2 separate regions of the Homo sapiens genome follow, and region 1 is linked to region 2. Evidence: fine-mapped expression QTL. A gene starts in region 2. The other region holds a variant in brackets. All regions are shown on one strand. Distances are between the middles of the regions. Region 1 overlaps LOC124902561. Region 2 holds the start of GLRX3 (glutaredoxin 3).

What was found.
Region 1: its variant is fine-mapped to the expression of GLRX3 in whole blood (INTERVAL, PIP above 0.99). The same link has a PIP of 0.9 or more in T cells.

Annotation. Positions count from the first base shown.
Region 1 is chr10:130,186,671-130,189,572 of GRCh38, reverse strand. LOC124902561 reads right to left here. Exons shown (of 2, transcript XM_047426136.1): 2 at 1-2,902. Among named protein-coding and RNA genes, the nearest start is that of GLRX3, 52 kb to the right of the region's middle. The variant G/A (reference allele first, on the strand shown) is at 1,115.
Region 2 is chr10:130,135,201-130,138,102 of GRCh38, reverse strand. GLRX3 (glutaredoxin 3) reads right to left here and starts at 1,712. Exons shown (of 11, transcript NM_006541.5): 1 at 1,591-1,712. The coding sequence starts at 1,682. LOC105378561 (a long non-coding RNA gene) reads left to right here and starts at 1,732. Exons shown (of 6, transcript XR_001747659.2): 1 at 1,732-2,902. RefSeq lists enhancers at 1-602, 881-930 and a silencer at 1,131-1,730.

The DNA of each region.
Region 1 (2,902 bases), 51 kb before region 2:
AGCTGCCAAGACCCAGGACTTTCTAAATTCACAAGGCAGCCTTCCCGGTCACTGGTAGGTGTATTTGTCAAGGTAAGAGGACAGAACAGTTTAATGTTTGTTCGCTTGACTTAAAACTTCCAGTATTTGCGGCCGGACGCGGTGGCTCACGCCTGTAATCCCAGCACTTTGGGAGGCCGAGGCGGGCAGATCTCGAGGTCAGAAAATCGAGACCATCCTGGCTAACAGGGTGAAACCCGGTCTCTACTGAAAATACAAAAAATTAGCCGGGCGTGGTGGCGGGCGCCTGTAGTCTCAGCTACTCGGGAGGCTGAGGCAGGAGAATGGCGTGAACCCGGGAGGCGGAGCTTCCGGTAAGCCGAGATCGCGCCACTGCACTCCAGCCTGGGCGACAGAGCGAGACTCTGTCTCAAAAAAAACAAAACAAAACAAAACAAAAAACTTAGTGTTTGCACACGGCATGGGAGGATTTCTATCTGAACTGCTGCTCCCAGGGTGCCCACGGCGACCTCACCCTCTGGAGACCCAGGTAACGGATCCGCCGTAAGAACCCAGCGGGGTGGGTGCTCCCGCCCGCGTCAGACCTGCCTTCAGGGAGAATCCGTCCCCCACCCCAGGCCTAAGCACAGCGCTTGCTGTGATCCGGGAGAAGCAGGATCCGGAGCCTGGTAATGAACCCTGGCTGAGCCACTCGCCCCTTGGATAAGAGCTTTGGCAAATTCCTGAGCTTGTTTCCCCACCAACAAAAATAACCCCCAAAACGCCATCGTGCTGGGGGGCCCTCGGGTTCTAAATAGGCACCGCGCTTCGGGCAGGGCATGGCCTTCACGGTGGGCTGCTCCTGTGGTGCCAGCGTTCTCTCTCCTTCTGGCAAAGCCGGTCCTGGGCACCTCCTCACCCTCTCTGCCTACCATTAGGACCAATATGGGCCCATCCACAGCCCAGCACTCCACCCTGCACCCAGTGCTGTCCCTGGACACCCAGAGGAACATGTCTCCCTCCCAAGCCACAGGAGCCAATTCACTGACTCCTCACACCTCATAGGGGTTAAGAGGGCAAACTGCAGCCAGGAGGCCCAGAGTCAAATCCCAGGTCCAACAGGTACTATGACCAG[G/A]AGCAGTGTGCTTCACCCATGCCTCAGTTTCCCCATCTGTCAAATGGGGCTGAAGATGCCTACCTCATAGGGTTGTGGTGAGAATTAAATGACTTAATACATGTCAACTATTCATGACAGCACCTGTTTGCTGTGGTGGTTTCAGCATCAGGTGGAGAGTATGTCCCTGCAGGAATGCACCTAGAACAAGGGGTCACAGGTGACCGGGTGTGTGTTTCTCTAGCGAGCAGTTCGGAGCAAGTTCAAAGAAGATCATGGCTAAGGTGAGTGGCCCTTTAACAGAATCTCCGGGAAAGGAGAACCCTGGGGTCAGGGCCTGAGTTCCCCGACCTCCTTCAGCCACACTCCTTGAAGCAGGGCTGGCCTTCCAGGCCTGCCACCTGTGCGGTCCCATGGGGCCCTGCACTCAGAAGGACCACACTCAGTTTCACGTTCTGCTTTCGTCATCTCGAAATTCTTAATAATTTTATCTGAACTCGTGCTGTTAGTGCAGGGGCACCACAGAGCATGTGGGTGAGCAGAGAACTGGCTACTCCTTGCCACCCGGCTAACATGCAGGGTTCGCGATGCGCCAGAAGCAGCGTTCCAGTGGGCCTCAGCATCGGAGGTGACAAGACTCAAGGCGAGGGCAACATCAGCATGTAACCAGCTACGACAGGACAGCTGGAGCTGACAGCCCTGGCACCACGCTTTCCAATCACATGAGAACTTGCTTCCAGCCCAGAAAGAGAGCAATTGCATTCTAAGAAACACGGATGACGGAGGAAGCCATCATATCCTCTCTGCCTTGTCTCTTGCCTGTACTAGCCAACTACTCACACTGAAGATGACACAGAAGGCAGGCAATGAGAGGGCAACCCACAGCTCCTTCTCTCTCATGGTAACCTTAGCCTTAAGGCAGCATTCGCTGAGGGAATGTGCATGGATCAAGAGCATTTCCTTTTGTGCAGTGCCTCCAGCATCCTGGCAGAAGCTGAGATAGACATAGATGGGCCAGCTCAAGTATCCCACACACAAGTTAAATGCTCTTATATTTGCATTTGAAATTGCCACTACACAGTGCAAAGAAAAGCAGAAACATTCATGTTAATAACTTAATGTTCTAATTTTTCTTTAGAATATTAAGTAGCAAATAATACACACCCGGGGAAAAACCTTTATATCTTAGCACCTCCAACAGCACTTTTTGCCTGCTTTCTGAACAAGCTCTAAAATTTATAAACCTGGACCTGCACGCAGGCCCTGCCCAGCAATATAGGAGGCTCCTTCCCTGGCAGTGGCCCGGGAAACAGCACAGTGCCACAGCCCCGATGGGAACCCAGGGCTCCAGTGCTTAGCTGCAGGAGGAGGGCAAAAACCTGCCGTCACCCCACAGCATGCCCAGCGGGGTGTTATTTTCAACAGGAACATGCTTTCTTACACTTAAGTGTGTGAAACTACACACGCTTCCTGCACCTCAGTGCACAGGGTTCCGGGATGAAGACAAAATGCTGGCATGGAGGCTGCCCCAGAAAATCCAGCCCGCTAACCGTGGGCCACCACCTCCCATCTCAGCCTCTCCACTCAGGACCGTCCCTGCCAGATCCTATGCTGCTTCTCATCAGCAACTTCGGACAGCCAAGCGTGCTGCACATGGGACACGCTCCTACCCACCAGGAGCCTTTGATTCTGGGATAAGACTCCTGGCATGAGGAAGACCCGCAGATCCTCCCTACCTGCACCCACCAAGGGCAAATGCCCTGGAACCTTCCTCCAGACCTAAGGGCAAAATAGAGGGATATGCTGGGG
Region 2 (2,902 bases):
CTGGGCAACAGAGCAACAGCCTGTCTCGAAAACAAACAAAACAAAATTTAGATCAATAAGCATTTCTGGCCGGACGTGGTAGCTCACACCTGTAATCCCAACCCTTTGGGAGGCTGAGGAGGGCAGATCGCTCGAGTCCAGAAGGTCGAGACGAGGCTGGGCAACATGGCGAGACCTCGTCTCTATAAAAAAAAATAAAAATTAGACGGGCGTGGTGGTGAGCACCTGTGGTCCCAGCTACTCGGGAGGATGAGGTGGGTCGATCACTTGAGCCTGGGAGGCGGAGGCTGCAGGGAGCCGTGATCGCTCCACTACACTGCAGCCTGGGTGACAGAGCCAGACCCTGTCTCAAAAACAAAACAAAACAAAGCTTTTTGCCTGTGAATTCCATGAACCATTCTACTTCCTACTGAAATACTAAGTGCCAACATCTACTGAGTGCTTCCTGCATACTAGGCATTGTATTATTTGTATTTTACATACGTCATCTCATTTAACCCTCACAACAACCCTGAGGTACTAACAGGTGCTAATCTATGTCACCGTCGGGAAACTGAGGCTTGGGCATGAAACGTGCCCAGGGGTTACATGGCTACTGAGTGGCTGCGGTGGGACTGGATCCCAGGCAATCCGACATAAGAGTTCCCATAACAACCGCTAATAATACAACTAAGAGAACAACTCAGTCCTTGGAGTAGTCTACAATGTGAGGTGGTATTATCACGGAGAGTCCACGTGCAGACCTTTCCCTGCAGGCACGCACGCTAGTAAGCATTTACTCGTAAGCATGCTTGCAGTTCAGAGCTTCTAGTCCACCCAGAAAACGCTTTCTATGCATTCCTCTGGATCTCCTTTTGTAGTCTTCCCAGGGATTGAAGACCTGGACACCGGCGCCAAATCTGAACAGACTCTCACTACACCAGTTCATGGAACAGGAAATCTCTGTCTCCGGCAACAGGTTAAGTCTGAAGACTGAGGCTACCTGCTGTCCAACAAACTTTAAAGGCTGACTTCAAAAGGCAGCCAGGCCTAGCTAATGCAACGGGGCCTTCCCTCGCCGCTCTTCCTGCGACAGGGGCGTTCCTGAAGGGAGGCTGAAGAGCAATGGGCCGACGCCGAGCCTGCCGCTCCCTCCCGGCGGGCACAGGAAAGGTGGAGCCCGCAGCCGTGGGTCCCGCTCCGTGGCGCGGAGGGCCGGGGTCTCGGCGCCGCCCCGTCCCCCGCCCCGCCACTGCGGCACGGCTGAGTCACCACCGCCTCCGTCCCGCGGCGGGGCCGCCCAGGCCAGAGGCCGGGAAGGTCGCGTCCCCCGGGCTTGGACAGCCGTCGGGGTCGGAGCCAGGGCTGGGGCCGGGGCTTCCAGGCGAGCCTCGCGCCCTGCTCGCTGTTCCGGGGCGGGGAACCTGCGGCTCGGGCCACTCACGCGGAGGCTCGGGGGAGTCTACGGGTGGCGCCGGGCCCGGTCCCCCGAGGCCGAAGGGAGCCGGGCACCAAGAAGCCAGGCTGGGCCACCCGCCGCCCCACACCGGCCCGGTCTCGCGGCCGCTCCCGCTCCGGCTCCTCACTCCTACCGCTCGCCGCCCCGCTTACTTGGCTTTGAGGCGCAGCAGCTCCTCAAACTGCCCGGCTGAGCCGACCTCCTCCACGGCCGCTACAGCTGCCTCAGCCGCCCCCGCCGCCATGCTGCCGCCGCCAGACAGAAGCAATCCAGTGCCGGCGGCCGGATGTGGGCGGGGCCACGGGGAGCTGAGCGGCTGCGCGAGGGAAAGCCCCGCCCCTGCCTGCGCTGAGGCTGCCGAGCCTGAGAAATCCCAAAAGGGGCCTCGGCGGCGGGCTCTGGATCCCGCTGGGGGGCTCTGACCCTGCCAAGTCTGGGCACTCCGCTGCGGGCCTCCTGGCTCCCGGGGTTCATGGCTGTTATGGTTCCTGGCTGTCGGGGCTCCTGGCTTTCGGGGCTCCCTGGCTGAAGGGGCTCCTGGCTGTAGGGGCTCCTGGCTATGGAGGTTCCCGGTTATAAGGGCTTCTGGATGTAGTGGATTCTGGCCGTCGAGGTCCCTGGCTGTCGGGGCTCCTGGCCGTAATGGCCCCTGGCTGTCGGGACCCCTGGGTGTCGGGGTTCCTGGCTGTCGGGACCCCTGGGTGTCGGGGTTCCTGACTGTAGGGGCTCCTGGGTGTTAGGGTTCCTGGCTATAGCAGGGGCTCCTGGGTGTCGGGGTTCCTTGCTGTCAGGGCTCCTGGTGGTAGAGGCTTCTTGCTGTTGGCTTCCTGGCTGTCGGGGTGACTGGGTGTCAGGGCTCCTGGTGTTAGGGTTCCTGGCTTCCTGGCTGTAGTAGGGGCTCCTGGGTGTCGGGGTTCCTTGCTGTCAGGGCTCCTGGTGGTAGAGGCTTCTGGCTGTTGGGGTTCCTGGGTGCCAGGGCTCCTGGGTGTCAGGGTTCCTGGCTGTCAGGACACCTGACTCCTGAGGCTCCTGGCTTTTGGGGCTCCAGACCTTCCTTGCACTTCCTGTGTCTCCTGGGTCTGTAATAGAAGGGGCCGGTGGAGGGGTGGGGGTGAGACATGTGAGTGAAAGTGAAGTCAGATGTGTACATTTAGGAAGCTGAAATTATCAAAAATGAAATTGCATAAAGGTGAGGAAGAACTGGGAGGTCTGGGAACAGAAGTGGTAGATCTTGAACTTCAACACAGACAGGGTGCTTCCAATTCAGTCCTGGGACCTGAACCCGGAGCCCACAGCATGTCCCTCCTCCCCTGGCCCTCCGCGCGTGCCGCCACTCATTGCAGCCCCACAGAGCCATCACCCATTGTAACCTCAGAACAGAAGGGGCTGGGTGGGTCCACAGATCCCTGCACTCCTCCCGTCTTGCCTCCTTGGATGATCCCTGGCTTGTCTTTCTCCCTTGGG